2 separate regions of the Homo sapiens genome follow, and region 2 is linked to region 1. A link means that fine-mapping ties the variant in region 1 to the expression of a gene that starts in the linked region. Tissue or cell type: breast. Region 1 holds a variant in brackets; the other region holds the start of a gene. All regions are shown on one strand. Distances are between the middles of the regions.

Region 1 (8,108 bases):
AAGAGCTGATGTCGCCTTTTGAAGGCCATCAGGCAGGAAGAGTAGTTTCCTCCTAATTTTTTATTTATTTATTTATTTATTTATTTATTTATTATTATTTTTTTGAGACGGAGTCTGGCTTTGTCGCTGAGGCTGGAGTGCAGTGGAGCAATCTTGGCTCACTGCAAGCTCTGCCTCCCAGGTTCACCCCATTCTCCTGCCTCAGCCTCCCGAGTAGCTGGGACTACAGGCGCCCACCACCACGCCCGGCTAATTTTTTGTATTTTTAGTAGAGACGGGGTTTCACTGTGTTAGCCAGGATGGTCTCGATCTCCTGACCTTGTGATCCACCCACCTTGGCCTCCCAAAGTGCTGGGATTATAGGCATGAGCCACCACGCCCAGCCTAGTTTCCTCTTAATTGAGAAGGGGTCTGATTGTCATTCTCTTCAGGCCCTCAACTGATTGGATGAGGCCCACTCGCATTGGGGAGGGCGATCTTCTTTGCTCAGTCTACCCATTTATACGTGACTGTCATTCAAAAACACCCTCAGAGAAAGGCATAGAATAAAGTCTGACCAAATACCTGGTTATTTCATGGCCCAGTCAAGTTGAAATAAAATTAACCATTGCAGCAAGCCGTGAAGCTGGTTATTTGTCCTTGTTCCTGTTGGAGCTGTGACTCCCATAGGACTTGTGCACTGAATGGAAGGAAGGTAAAGGGGAGATCAGAGATAGGAGAAGCTGTGTTGAGTGTCTAGTACTGTAACTTGTACTAAGCTGAATGCAACAAACGATGCTTTTGTCTTTCAGTGTATAGAGACATCCTGGCTTGTGGCAGAGGGGATTCGTTTTTTATAAGAAGCCACTTTGAATGTGAGAAGGAAACTCCACAGAGCCTGGCCTTCACCAGAGGGGAGGTCTTCCGAGTGGTAGACACACTGTATGACGGCAAGCTGGGCAACTGGCTGGCTGTGAGGATTGGGAACGAGTTGGAGAAAGGCTTAATCCCCAACAAGAGCAGGTAACAGAGATCGCATTCTCACATACCCCTTTTAATCCTTCCCCCTGCAGAAAACTAGAGACCGCCCCCCTTCCCCCGTAAAAGGAAACCCCACATGATGAGTTCATTACTTGTCACCATCTATTTCTTGTTTATGGAGAGTGGCCTGAACTGTAAATAGCCACCAGCCAGTTTATTGTGAGTAAATTTAGCATCATGTGGTTGGTTGCTGAATGTGGCTGTTTGAACAACTTCCTAAGGAGCATCCACTGCCTTGTACCGTATACAAGAGATATACTGAATGGCCGTAGCACACCAGCACACCTCTTAGAGACAAGGTACCCTTGTCCGGTGCCCAGTCTCCATCCTTGGAGAGGTTTATGCACCCCAGTGAACACTTGGTGTTTGGCTGACAGTGCAGGAACCTAGAAAAGAGGCCTGTATTTGAGCAGGAGTTCCAGGTGTGTGTACTGTGTACCTGCATATCAGAATGGGCCAAATTTCACATGTTTATTGCTGAGCCACTTCTGGGAGATTTCACAGAGACCCAGCCTTTTTCTGCTCCCATTTGGAAGTGAAGGTCCCCACATTTCCCACCCTCTGAAACTTCTTCATTGTCAAGCGGAATCTTCTCTGAGCTCAGAAGTAAAATTGACTGGATTTGATTAATGAAATGCATGTTAGCTGCGTTTTCTGGCTTTAGAGATTTACTTCCCGTGGTTTCTTCTCAGAGCTGAACAAATGGCCAGTGTTCAAAATGCCCAGAGAGACAACGCTGGGGACCGGGCAGATTTCTGGAGAATGCGTGGCCAGAGGTCTGGGGTGAAGAAGAACCTGAGGAAAAGTCGGGAAGACCTCACAGCTGTTGTGTCTGTCAGCACCAAGTTCCCAGCTTATGAGAGGGTTTTGCTGCGAGAAGGTGAGGAAGTCACATGGGGCCTGGAAATGAACTGACTGGGCTCTGAGCCTGTTCACCTTTATTTTCAGACTGTATGGTCAAGTTCTAACTTATGTATGTCAGTTATGCCAAAGGCAGTTTATAGAGTTGAAATCAAATTCTAACAAGGAGCATGATTTATAAAAAGCTGTTTCAGTTCCTAAATTGAGGCTTATTTCTGCAACTTAAAAAATGTTTTAATACCACTGTTCAAGAGTTTCGGTATATTGGCTGGGCACTGTACCTTATGCCTATAATCGTAGCACTTTGGGAGGCCAAGGTGGGAGGATCACTTGAGCTCAGAAGTTCAAGACTAGCCTGGGCAATATAGTAAGACCTCATCTCTGCAAAAAATAAAAAAAGTTTCCATATATTATCAATGGGAAAGTTTGTGTTTAAAAATGGTGAGGAGCTAGGCAGTGTAGTCCCAGCTACTCAGGAGGCTTGAGCCTAGGAGTTTGAGTTTAGTCTGGGCAACATAGTGAGATCTTGTCTCTTAAAAAAAAATCTAGGTTAGCATGTGGTTGAATGAAAAGAAAAAAATTGTTTTAAATGGTGAGGATAGTGAAGGCATATTCTTCAGAACAGAGCCAAGCTGAATTGGGGAGAAACCACAGTTTCTTTCGTTTAGTTATGTTATCAAAAGCCCATACAATACTTTTACTGCTTATCATAACAGCTAGGCAAGTGTGTATGCTTTAATGGCCTTTCTTGTCATTTCAGCTGGTTTCAAGAGACCTGTGGTCTTATTCGGCCCCATAGCTGATATAGCAATGGAAAAATTGGCTAATGAGTTACCTGACTGGTTTCAAACTGCTAGTAAGTCTGTCAGTGTTTTTTTTTCCCCCAAATTTTTATTTTGAAAAATTTCTAACAGAGGAGTTGGAAGAATCATGAACACCCACGTACCCTTCACCTGGAATCACCAGTTGCTGACATTTTGTCACGCATTTTCTCTCACCCACTGCCTGCACCATAGACACACATACACACACACATACACATACTCTTTGAAAAATTTCTGCAGAATCATTTATAACACTTTATCCCTGAATACTTGTGTGAATCTCCTAAGAACAAGGACTTTCTCCCACATAACTGCAATACCATTATCACAGCCAAGAAAGGTAACATTGATGTGGTGTGATTTTGTATATAGTCCATTTTCCACGTTTTCTTAATTGTCCTAGTTATGTGCTTCATAGCTTTTTTTTAAATTCAGAATACAACCAAGGACCATTCATGACATTTGATTTTTATGTCTTTTTGTGATTTTTATGTCTTTCCAGTCCCCTCTTTTTTCTAAATAACTTTGTTACACTGATATTTTGAAGAATCCAAGCTAGTTGTCTCCTAGAATGCTTCCTGTTGGACTGGCCTAACCGTTTCTTCATGATTAGATTTCCACTAAGCAGGTTATGTGGGTCCTTCCCACTGAATCTTGTTAGGAGACACTTAATGTCAGGTGTGCCATCATTGCTTGATGCTAGGTGGGAGTATTTGGTTGTCACTGTTTTCTAAACAATTATTTAGCTTCCTGTTTTTGCTTTTGCAGAAACGGAACCAAAAGATGCAGGATCTGAGAAATCCACTGGAGTGGTCCGGTTAAATACCGTGAGGCAAATTATTGAACAGGTGAGAAAATTCATCCACAGACCGTGTTTTCAGAAAGAATTAGATTATGGTTTGCTGCAGTCACTTTTAGGATAGTATCTGTACTTTTAATCATTAAATGTTAATAATAAAAAATTGGCCGGGCACAGTGGCTTACACCTGTAATCCCAACACTTTGAGAGGCTGAGGCGGGTGGATCACCTGAGGTCAGGAGTTCGAGACCAGCCTGGCCAACATGGTGAAACCCTGTCTCTACTAAAAATATAAAAAATTAGCCGGGCACAGTGGCAGGTACCTGTAGTCCCAGCCACTCAGGAGGCTGAGGCAGGAGAATCGCTTGAACTCAGGAGGCGGAGTTTGCAGTGAGCGGAGATTGCACCATTGCACTCCAGCCTGGGCGACGAGTGAAACTCCATCTCAAAAAAATATATATATAATGTAAATGCAAACCGTTTCACTGTGTGGAAACCAGTCACTGTTGGCAGTGAGCGGAGATTGCACCATTGCACTCCAGCCTGGGCGACAAGAGTGAAACTCCATCTCAAAAAAATATATATATAATGTAAATGCAAACCATTTCACTGTGTGGAAACCAGTCACTGTTACTGTTCTCTGGCAGTAACATACTGTTTTTTTTTCCAGAGTTCCCAGCATTATACCAAATAATGTGTTAATTCATTTTATCAGAAGTTCTAACACATTGGTAATATTGAAGTGGGCATTAGGTAGAAGGAAATGTGTTCTGCTTCTTGATTTAAATTTACAAGATAGGTGGCTCATGCCTGTAATCCCAGCACTTTGGGAGGCAGAGGCGGGCGGATCACCTGAAGTCAGGAGTTTGGGACCAGCCTGGCCAACATGGTGAAACCCTGTCTCTACTAAAAATACAAAAATTAGCTGGCCATGGTGGTGGCGGGCACCTGTAATCCCAGCTACTCAGGAGGCTGAGACAGGATAATTGCTTGAACCCGGGAGGCGGAGGTCGCAGTGAGCCAAGTTTGTGCCACTGCACTCCAGCCTGGGCAACAGAGCAAGAATCTATCCCAAATAAGTAAACAAACAAACAAACAAGATATATCTCATACAGCCTTTACTTATTAAAACAAAGTATTTGATGCTATATTACTTTATATATCCATTTCTCTAACTTTTCCCCTTTTGTAAACAGGATAAGCATGCACTACTGGATGTGACTCCGAAAGCTGTGGACCTGTTGAATTACACCCAGTGGTTCCCAATTGTGATTTTTTTCAACCCAGACTCCAGACAAGGTGTCAAAACCATGAGACAAAGGTTAAATCCAACGTCCAACAAAAGTTCTCGAAAGTTATTTGATCAAGCCAACAAGCTTAAAAAAACGTGTGCACACCTTTTTACAGGTAAGTGAAATGTAAATGTAGTCCCTTTGCTAAAAAATGAGAAATAAAGAATTGAAGA[G/A]TAGAAGAAATAATTAATTAATCTGAATGGAGAATTTGAAATTGTGTTCATGACTCCTTGAAAAATAGTTAATCCTATAAAATGGGATATTAGGCCAATGGCATTTATATATTGAACTTTGTAATTTTGTCTATTTGAAAATGACCATAAAGATCCATGATGTGGTAATAATTAGCTATTTTGATGAAGTTCATATTTTCCTGTGAGACTATAAGGCTAGTGATTGAGCCAGGCCAAACACCTATGTCTCTCTAGAGATTGTGTCATTGTTCTCTACTCACCATCAATACATGCATTAACTTACAAAGCGAAAGGAACTTGGTTTCATTATTTAAAAATATTCCTGTCCAGCATGGTGGATAACACTTGTAATCCTCCCACTTTGGGAGGCCAAGGCAGGAGGATCACTTGAGCCCAGGGGTTGGAGACCAGCCTGAGCAACATGGTGAGATCCTGTCTCTACTAAAAGGCCTAGCATGGTGGTGCATGCCTATGGCTGAGGTTGGAGGATCGCTTGAGCCAGGAATTCAAAGCTGCAGTGAGCTGTGATGGCACTGCTGCACTCCTGCCTGGTGACTGAGTGAGACCCTGTCTCTTCAAAGAAAAAAAAAAAAATCTAGAAACTTGGACACTCTGAATATTGGATGATTTAAAGATTTATTATTTCTCTTTGTTAGGTGTGATAATAATATTGTGATTTTTTTAAAAACAAAGTTCTTTGAGGAATGCATACTAAATAAAATATTTATGGTTGACCTAATATAATGTTGAGAATTTGCCTAAATAGTCTGCAGTGAGGGGAGTAGATGGGATTATAGACAGGACAAGACTGGCCAAGACTTGGTAGTTGTTAGTTGTTGAACTGGTTGATATGTACATCGGAGTTCATTAAACTGCTATCTGTACTTTTGTACATATTTAAAGATTTACCTAATAGAATATATTTTTAAGTCCATGAAATGAAGAGCCATTGCTATTACTCATGAAAGTAAAATGGTCTAAGAACATGACATATTTTAGTAACAATATATGCACTGTCTATATAAATGATTAATTCTGTGCATATGAGATTATTAAGAGTTTTAAAGGGTTACATAAATTTTGTGGTCATGCAGGGCATTATTTTGTTGGGGCAACACGAGGAGACTGCAAGGATATGATATCCTTAGGATGAGGATAGCTCATTGAGTTCATTGCCCATCATCATCCACCCATGTCATTTTAGTGTATCTCTGATACTGGAGAGGAAGGGGTGAATGATTGTGTTCACATTAGATGCTTGTTTTAGTGTAACTTGGTTTTTCTTGTTAAAGAGAGGTGCACTACTTGCCACTGTGGCCAAATGGAGAGAGTTTAACCAAATGCAGAGGAGGAAGTGGTCCATCATAAACTAGATTTCTGTGAATGTAGTCTTACGTACTCATACTCTTGGTATATTTATGAATATCCTTTCTGTCCTTTTTACTACTAGTATTATAATTATTATGATTATTACTATTATAGCAACAGTAAAGAGTGGTACAGCCTTCCATGTGTGCTGTCTTATTAGGCCATAAGAAAGGCCAGCACTTTTGCATAATCACAATTCTGATGTATGACTGAGCCCAGACTAAACTATAGCGTCCCTAACTGTCCAATATTGTACATATGTTACAGCACAGACATATTCTAATCCCAAAAGGGGTCACGTAATGCAGCCCTTCCTTTTGACAGATTAAAAAACTGAAGCCAAAGTGATTATAAATGAAGTTAAAACTATCCCCACTTTATTTTCCCCCCTGCTTTTGTCTGAGTACACTAAATAGCGAGCGTCTTCCCTCAGAGAGTTAAATTTGGGATTCACGTGAGGATGTAGGAAATCGGGAAGGGAATTACAGTGCATTGTAGAGGAAGAACTAGGCTGAAGGCGGCTGGACGAGGAGAGCAGGGCAGAAGAAGGCAGCCAGTGACTGTGGGGCTCTCCCTTGATCTAACCTGAGTCCGCATCATTTGCTCTTGGGAGCACAGGCCACGGTAGCTGGCTGAGTGTGAGTAAGAATCTAGAGGGGTCCATGTGTGTAGAAGGGGTTAGCAACACCTCTGTTAGCTCCATAGATGGATTTCAAGATCCTTGAAGGCAGAGCCTGAACATTTCCCAGCGTTGTGTGCCTGAGGCCAGCATCAGGACTAGCACATGGGCAAGGCATAAATGTTTGTAACTTACATTAGAACTGCCCCTGGCACACCAAGCCATTTCTTGCCTAAACTCATCAGGAAGTTGAAAGTTTTAGAATAACTCAAGTCAGAGATTGGAATGGAAGCACACACTGTAAGCATTGAGTTTCATCTAAAACATTGAAGTGATCTTATCTCACCAGAAATTGCCAATCTCTTATGTAGAATTGTACAGTCTTCAGGATAGATGGTGCAGGGTGTGCAGCAACTTTGACCAGCAAGCTCCAATTTTCTAGCAAGTGGTCTTTTACAGTACTCTTCCAGACTTCAAAGTTTGACTCCCTACAGCTGTGTGGATGACTGCACTAATAATTGCTTTTATTCCCCATCTCACCCTCGTCCCTCTTAGCTTGACCAGGTTTTGACTTGAGGCTGTGTGCCATGTCCAGAAACACTAGTCTTTACATTTGAGCAGTAGAATCTTCAGGCAGAATTAGTATTTTATAGTTTTTGTTTGTTTTTGAGACATAGTCTCCCTCTGTCGCCCAAGCTAGAGTGCAGTGGCACGATCTCGGTTCACTGCAACCTCTGCTTCCTGGGCTCAAGGCACCTTCCCTCCTCAGCCTCCCCAGTAGCTGGGACTACAGGCACACACCACCATGCCTGGGTAATTTTTGTATTTTTTCTGGCAACAGGGTTTACCCATGTTGCCCAAGCTGGTCTCAAACCCCTGGGCTCAAGCAATCTGCCCGTGTTGGCCTCCTAAAATGCTGGGATTACAGGCATGAGCCACCGTGCCTGGCCTATTTTGTAGGCTTTTAAAATGATTTTAAGTGTATGGCATTTTTGTGAGTTAGTAGTTGAGAATAATAGAGTGCTTTGATGAACACAGTAATTTGAAGTCAAGCTTTATGTTGCATTAGTCTCTTTAGGCTCAATATCCTTTTGTTTTCCTTTTTGCAAAGTAATAAGAAAGCTCCTCTTC
Region 2 (8,108 bases), 64 kb before region 1:
ATCTTCACCTGGATGACCCATAGCACTTGAAAATCAGTCTGTAACTAAACTCATCATCTTTCTTCAAGCTCCTCCCAAGATCTGCTCCCACTCCTGTGTTCTGTTTTGATAAAAGCCACCGTCATCTCCTTTAAGTAAGCCAGAAACCTGAGAGTCAGCGTAGGCTCACTTCCCGCTCGCGTCTCCCCATATCTAGTCAGGCAGTCATCCAGCCTGCTGATCTACTTCCTTAGTTTCTCTAGAATCTGGCTCCCTTTTGTCTAACACTGCCTAACTTCATAGCCACGTCATCTCTCACCTGCATTCCCACAAAAATGCATTTTTGGCCGGTCTTGTCATTCTTACTAACATTCTCCTCCCCCACCAACCCCTGTCCCCCACCAACTGTCAAATCCATCTTTATACTTGCCTGGGCAACTTCACCTTCTGGCACCTCAAGAGTAAGCCTGCTGTCTCTTCCTTCCTTACTTCTCTCTGTGTTATTTATTCCCCTTACCTGGAAGGCTTTTTTCCTTCTTTGTGTCTTAAAAACTCATTCCGACCTCTCCTTTAGAATGTATAAGCAACCCCATCTCTGGAAAGCCTTCCCTAAGTCTCTCCTGCTAGACCACTCTGAGCCTGCCAGGAATCTCAGTGCTTACACAGTTTATCATTACTTGTTGATTGTCTACTGCAATAGACTGAGTTTCCTAAGGCAGGATCCTGAGTATTTTATCAAGGGGTTGACAGAGGTGTTCAGTAAGTACCTGTTGAGTAGAAGAATTTTTTTTTTTTTTTTTTTTTTTTTGAGACGGAATCTCGCTCTGTCACCAGGCTGGAGTGCAGTGGTGCAATCTCGTCTCACTGTAACCTCCGCCTCTTGGGTTCAAGCGATTCTCCTGCCTCAGCCTCCTGAACAGCTGGGACTACAGGCGTGCGCCACCACGCCCAGCTAATTTTTGTTATTTTTAGTAGAGACGGGGTCTCACCATGTTGGCCAGGATGGTCTTGATTTCTTGACCTCGCGATCTGTCCGCCTCGACCTCCCAAAGTGCTGGGATTACAGGCATGAGCCACCGCGCCCTGCGGAGTAGAAGTTCTTTGGATAAACACATTCTAGGAGTGGGGTCAAAATGTGCAAACCCACACGTGAAGAAGATGACTAATAAATTGTTTCTCCAAAGAGTTGTATTGATTTACACTGCCACCAGCAAAAAAGCTAATATATCAACTGAACCGTGTTTCTAACAACCATTTACTGAATGCTTATCATCTGTCAGGTGTTGTGCCAGAAGAATGGAGTTTGTCTATAAATATTTCATCATTTCGAGTAGTGCAGTCCAACAGAACTTTCTGCATTGATGGAAATATTCTATATTTGCACTGTCCAATAGGGTAGCTATTAGCCACATGTGGCTTCTGAGCCCTTGAAATGAGACAAGTGTGACTGAAGAACTGAATTTGTCATTTCCTCTAATTTTAGTTAATTTACATGTAAATGTAAACACTTACTGGTGGCAAGTGGTCATCTTATTGAACAGTGCCGCTCTAGAGAGAAAAAAGGAAATCAGTCAGTAGATGTAACTGCCACATTCTGGATTATTTTTTAAATGTTAGTGGCTCTAAGCCCACATCATTAAGGTGTGGCCACCTTTCAAGTGCTATCATTTTTATTAGTCAGCACCACCTAATTTGGGAAATATTTTATTTTTTTTTCCTTTTTTTTGATTAAAACAATTTTTAAAAAATAGAGATGGGGTCTCACTATGTTGCCCAGACTGGTCTCAAACTCGTGGGCTCAAGTGATTCTCCTGCCTTGCCTTCCCAAAGTGCTGGGATTACAGGCATGAGCCACCGTGCCTGGCCAGATTTGGGAAACATTTTATAAATAGGTGCTTAGATCAGGAGAGCAATGCCTTACATCAGGAATACAACCAAAATGTCTAAGTCCGGAGACTCGAGGCAAAGTGGGAAACGTTACTCACAGTGCTTTTTATCCAGAGGCGTGGACTTAGTTACTCCAAAGGAGTCCAGAAGCATAACACTTCTGGAGAGGCATCTACTGGACTTGTTTTTCCACGAAACTTCTAGACTTGTTTTGATCAGGCAGGAAGTGAAGCAACTTTTCAGGGAGAGAGCCCAGCATCTGCATCTCCTCTGGGACAGACCACACCTTTTACCTTCTACTTGTGAGCCTAGGACGAGTTTTGCTTTCCAATTAAGGGAAGAGCAGGGCAGGCAAAACTATTCTCTTACAAGATGGTTTTTTAAGATTTCAAACCCAAGGTTATATTTTTAATCGGTACCTGTTTGGATTCTCCAAATTAATTTATATGCTCTTAAAATAAAGACACTTAACGTCACTGCACAATTCTTTGCACATGGAGGACTTCGAAAGGAATAAGCACACTGAATTGCATTAGATGAATCCTGTCAGATAAGCACTTGTGACCTACTGGCAACCTTTTATAAGCTGATGATGGGAGAGGAGTTTCAATCTCTTTATTGGAGTTGTTGGAAATGTGCCAAAGAGATAACCTGGAATATATTGTCCTGAAAAGTCCTGTTTTAATATTTAATACGAACATCTTATAACCCTCGGAATTCGGGTAGGCAGTTGTTGGGCTGAGAAATGTGGGGTACAAGGCCGTGTATGTGTTGGTTAGCCGGGCAGGCCTCTAGACAGGACCTAAAACTTTGAGGTTTTCCCAGTTCGACTCTTCGTAGGAGAACTGAAGCTGCCTGTGTGAGGCCCTGCGAACCTCGCCAAAAAGTCTTCCTACAGGATGCCCCCGCGACCTCACCGGGGAAACACCGCGGACAGTCGGGCCAGCAGCGCCCGGAGCTCACTCCAGGTCTCCAAACTTGCAGCACTTCCCAGAGCGCGCGCGCTCGGAGCGGGACCTGCTTGCTCCAGTGCACGCCGCGGAGCGAACCATCGGGCTGGCGGGGGTGGAGGGGTGCAGGCGTGGGGGCTGCGGGCCGCTCGGGCCTTGGGCTTCTCCTGCCGCCGCCGCCGCCTCCCGCCCCCGGCCAGGAGTCGCGCGTGACGCGGTTCGCCGCAGGAGCCTCGAAGGCGCGGCGCCGGCGAGCCCTTCCCCGGCAGGCGCGTGGGTGGTAGCGGCCAATTTGACAGTTTCCCGGGCCGGGCGGCCAGCGCGGAGGCGCCACGCTCGGGTCGGGGGCGGGCTGACGCCGCCGCCGCCGCGGGAGGAGGGACAAAGGGGTGGGTCCCCGCGGGTCGGCACCCCGGCGGTTGGGCTGCGGGTCAGAGCACTGTCCGGTGGTGCCCAGGAGGAGTAGGAGCAGGAGCAGAAGCAGAAGCGGGGTCCGGAGCTGCGCGCCTACGCGGGACCTGTGTCCGAAATGCCGGTGCGAGGAGACCGCGGGTTTCCACCCCGGCGGGAGCTGTCAGGTTGGCTCCGCGTAAGTGCCTCCTTGTGCCGCGCGGTTGGGAGGAGGGTCGTGAGCGTGAGCGTGGGAGCGCTGGGGGCTCTGCTCGCGTGCTGCTCTGAAGTTGTTCCCCGATGCGCCGTAGGAAGCTGGGATTCTCCCATCCGGACGTGGGACGCAGGGGAGGGGTAGGTTTCACCGTCCGGGCTGATGACTCGTGGCCTCCGGGGCTCCTGGAACCTTTACTCTGAAGTCACTTGGGCTGGAGATTAAGGCGCGAGTAGGGGACACTGTCTTGAACCCGGTGTCCTGGATTTCTGCTGGCTTGGAGGCATCTCGTGTCTGTTGTGTCGCTTGCATGTCTTTGTGTTTTCCTTCTCTATTTCAAACCACACTCGGTATTGATGCAAAGTTACAGGCTTGTGTACGTGAGAGAAACTGAAAACTCATCACAGAGCAGAATCCCTTTTCCCTTTCAATCAGCTGCGTCTGTAATAGAAGTAAAAGTTGTTTTTTTTTTTTTTTTTTTCCAGTAGGGAATGGGGATGGAGGTTTGGAAGGACCCACAAAAGAGGAGTGTGATGAATGCTTTGTATTCTAGTACTAGCCTACCTGTCACCAGTTCTTTTTATGTCTTCATTTGTCAAGTTTCTGCTTTTACACGGTAGTTTAAGTTATAAATAATCAGGGATTTCTACCACAGGGTTTTAACATTCTTGAAATGTGGACAAACTTGGGAGTGAGTGCTCCCGCGCTTAGTAATGGAATACAGCCTCCCACCTCTATTTCAGCTTCAGTTCTTAGGCTAGGCTGCTTTTCTGGCAGCTGTCTGGCCTGAGTAATGATGGTTGTGGTTTCCCTGAAGTTCCCAGCGGAGAGTCATCCCATGATAGAAACTGCCTTGCGCTTCTCACTCACGCTCTCAGCCCGGGGAATCCCAGCGGGGAGGAGGGAGGGAGGTCGTTTTCTTCAGCTCCCCAGGTGGTCTGTGCTGGGTGTGCTGACGGTCCTTTTGGGAAAACAGGTCCACCTTTGCCAGCGTAATTCAGAAAGAGATGTAATTTTCTGAGAGCACACACCTGGGCAGGAGATCGCTTGAAGTGAGAAATTCGTAGTGGTAAATGTATTTGTAGCAAAGTACCACTGCATATCCTGCTTGAGAGGATGAAATTTGATTATTTAGTAAGTTTTCATGAACAACTCCACTTCAGTGTGGGGATTACGCAGATGAGCAAGAGCGTGGCTCTGTCACACAGTCCCGTTGGGAAAGCCTGCAACTCATTAAGAATCCGATGAGTGCCATTTAGAAATGTGGACAGGGTACTGGAGCTTCCTCATTGTGGGGAGATGGCAGAAGCGGAGGTGCTTTACTAAAGCACCGGTGGCTTTTGAGGTGTTTCTTGTGTTTTTTTCAGAACTACTTCTGCAGTGGGGCCACTTTATTTCTTTTCAGAGCTACTTATGCAGATTGATGAAGGGGAACTTTCCCCTCTGAAATGCTGCTGTAACTTTTTCAGTACCATCCAGATATTATAATACTGAATGAGCCCCTACTCCTGCCAGTCACTGTGGGGGATACAAAGATGAACAAGATTCAATTTCTGCATTTAGGGGTCTAGTGGACCTGAAACTGTTAGACTTTACTCTGCAATCTGTGTCGGGATTCCTGAGACTGAGGGAGGGAATGTATGATGCCGATGCACACTCTGCAATACAGAAATTTAGCAAAGAGTGGGATTGGTCCTATATGCATTCCCTTCAGGGGATTCTTGCTGGGAATAAAGGGCATTTGAACAGTTACCTCACCCGAGCAAGCCACTATAGAAAATGGGGCCAGTAATGCGCCCACCTCACCGGGCTGAGTGAGGTCTGAATGAAATGACAGAGAGTACAAGGCATGTGGTGGATGCTACGTAAATGGTGGTAGCTAGTAATAGGAACAAAACGGGTGCTGAAAACTCTTAAGTGTTGGGTCCTGGGTTGATAAGGGAGGTGAGATCTAAAGATACAAGTAGGAGGTGCCAGGTAGGTGTCCAGGAAAAAACTGAAAGAGTTGTTGTTCACACTCTGTTAAAAGGCCTTGAAGGCCATAACGAAGCTTTGGGTGGGGGGAAGTCAGAAATCCCTCATGTATTAAATGACTTGACTTTCCCTACAAAAGAAGCGAACCAGTTTCCCAGTAAACATCCCACCCCATAACTATTTTTGAGGCATTCATAGGCTTAAGACCAATGAATTTTTACATCACCCCCGGGGGAATTGCATTTGCAATGACTTCTGCCTACATTTAACTTTTGATCTAGTTCTTTGTACACTGACAAAAGTTCACAGCCAACCATTTCTCTTCAGGACAAGTGTGAGAACTTTCTGCATACTGCTGAAGGCAAGGGAGATTTTGAGTTTAGCAAGGTTTTCTCTCCTTAAGAAGGTTATCTTTTTACGAGACACAAGTTATTGAAACTAGGCGGGGCCACTTTAGTCCTGTGTACAATAATATGTGTAGTAATATAAATAGTAATTTAAAAAGTCATGCAGACTTGGTTGGGGAGAGGCATGAAGTTTGGGTGTGGTGGGGGCGGGGTGAAGCGGTAGAAGGGTTCGCAATCACTGCTGAAACTTTCAACATATTCTACCAACAATATGAGCCACCAGGGAATTCCTTGCCTCATCTCTAGAACGAATCCCATTAAGCAGTTGTGGCTACAGATGAATTTATCTAGGTTGAGAGCTGATTCCCAATAACATGCCTCATTGATTTGACTCTAAGCAGTAATCAGGGGCCCAACAGTTGTTGGACCAACCAGCCTTGATTTTCCAGAGAAGGTGATTTGGTATATGGTAGTGTCTGAGGGTGAGATTGCCCCAGATGGGAGTGGAGGGAAGCAGAACAGTTTTCTCTGGTGTTTTACTGAGTTTTTGTCTTGATCCTAAATCCAAGGGTTAGGGTCAGAAACACAGACTCAGAGGTTAGATTTAACACCCATTTAGTGGGTTAAACACATCAATGGTTATGTGAACTTTGTTAAGGTTTAAAAAGCTATTTAGGGCCTGTTTCTCCCTCATAGGAATTTTTGCAATCAGCCTTTTTAGTAGATGCCCATATAGAAAGTGAATTTGGGAGGGTCTAAGGTGGTATTACTATTAAACTTTTTGAAAAGGCTGTGTGATAGCAATGGAAAAAAAAATTCAGGCATGGAAATCCAATATGCAGTATTGCAGTAGCTAGTTTTAATTTTATTTTTGTTTTTTTGGTTTTTTTTTTGGAGATGGAGTCTTGCTCTGTTGCCCAGGCTGAAGTGTGGTGGTGCGGTCTTGGCTCACTGCAACCTCTGCCTCCCGGGTTCAAGCGGTTCTCTTGCTTCAGCCTTCAAAGTAGCTGGGATTACAGAAGTGAGCCACCGTGCCCGGCCACTAGTTTTAATTTTGGATGGTACCTAGGAAAGCAGTTGAGCTAGTATGCTGCATACATTGTAGTGTGAGAGGCAGAGTTCCGAGTTGGAGAGTGTCTGCTTCCACTTTTTCCATTTGATTAGGAAAAGCACTTCTTAGAACTGGGTGACTGACAGCTAGAGCCCCAGAAGACCTGCACAAGCTGGGGCAATGGCTACCCATAACAGTGACGGCTCCATTCTGTTTTTTAAAGGGATTGGTGTCTCTATCATCCAGCTGGCCATTAAACAACCAAAGCTTCATCATCCTAGATAACCTGTGAGCTCTCAGAGGAGACAGAGTAAGGACTATCATACCCCCAAAATACCTAATCATTTAATAAAGCATTTTCTCTACCTTTTATGCTATCCCAAAACAGTGCTTTCCAAAGTCTGGTATACAGACAGACTTACAGGTGGTGCAGAGAGATACATATTCTATTTTTCAATTATGATGCATGAATATTATATGTTAGGAATAAAAACAGAAAACCAGCTACCACATCCATTTATTTCATGGCTAGATTGCTTAGAATGAGGCAAAAATAAATATTAAGTAAAGCAGTGAGTTTGCTTTAAGAAAAATTATCAACTCTGGGAATGAGTAATATGAGGCTAAGGCAAAAATGGTAAAGCTAGCCCTTGACATCTGAGGTGTGCATAATACTGCTTAAAATATGAGTGTGGTGCTTACTTATAGAGAGCCTGGTATACCTTGACCACGCCTTCAAGAAAGTCAAACACAGAATGGCCCAGAATAGCCAGGAAAGTTGAATTTGATGGACTTTCTGTCTTAAGCGTGTGCATCCTGCTCTTATCCACTCAGATCTCTTAGATGTGGTTGCAGACAGTGTATTTGTAGAGCTAGCTGTTTGTTTTAACGTCTGGCCCAATTCTCATTCCTTTCTCTGCTTCCACAAGCCATTCTGCAGTTTTTAAAGGTCTGTTGGTATGATATTTTTGATATGATAGAGTGATAGGGGAGGAAGTATTTTGACACTGATGAAGGACATCACTGTATTATCAAGTGACTCTTGCTCATGATTCATTGCCGAAGAATGTGGACAGCCAAACAGCCTCACCTGTAAATGCATTTAATTTCTCAAAGTCTTTCAGAAGAATGCCAACTGGATGAGTTTTTTTTTCTTATTTTTTTTTTAATATGAAGCTTGTATTGGTCTGTAAAATAGGCTTTAACAAGGATTTTCGTAGGAACAGGAAGCCTTGAGGTAGAAAACAAGTATCCCTGCTTTGACCTAGAGAGATGCATGCTCATGGCAGGCGAATGAATCAAGGAGAAGAGAAAAT

The links. PIP is the estimated chance that this variant, and not a neighbour inherited with it, causes the effect.
Region 2: TJP2 starts here. The variant in region 1 is fine-mapped to the expression of TJP2 in breast (GTEx, PIP 0.94).

The regions. Positions count from the first base shown.
Region 1 is chr9:69,235,237-69,243,344 of GRCh38, forward strand. It overlaps TJP2 (tight junction protein 2), which reads left to right. Exons shown (of 23, transcript NM_004817.4): 13 at 792-1,002; 14 at 1,713-1,900; 15 at 2,642-2,737; 16 at 3,474-3,553; 17 at 4,701-4,911. Among named protein-coding and RNA genes, the nearest start is that of TJP2, 65 kb to the left of the region's middle. RefSeq lists enhancers at 6,544-7,044, 7,045-7,545. The variant G/A (reference allele first, on the strand shown) is at 4,970.
Region 2 is chr9:69,171,028-69,179,135 of GRCh38, forward strand. TJP2 (tight junction protein 2) reads left to right here and starts at 3,250. Exons shown (of 23, transcript NM_004817.4): 1 at 3,250-3,405. The coding sequence starts at 3,346. It overlaps LOC124902175 (a long non-coding RNA gene), which reads right to left and starts at 570. Exons shown (of 2, transcript XR_007061566.1): 1 at 1-570. RefSeq lists a silencer at 2,839-3,268 and an enhancer at 4,159-4,348.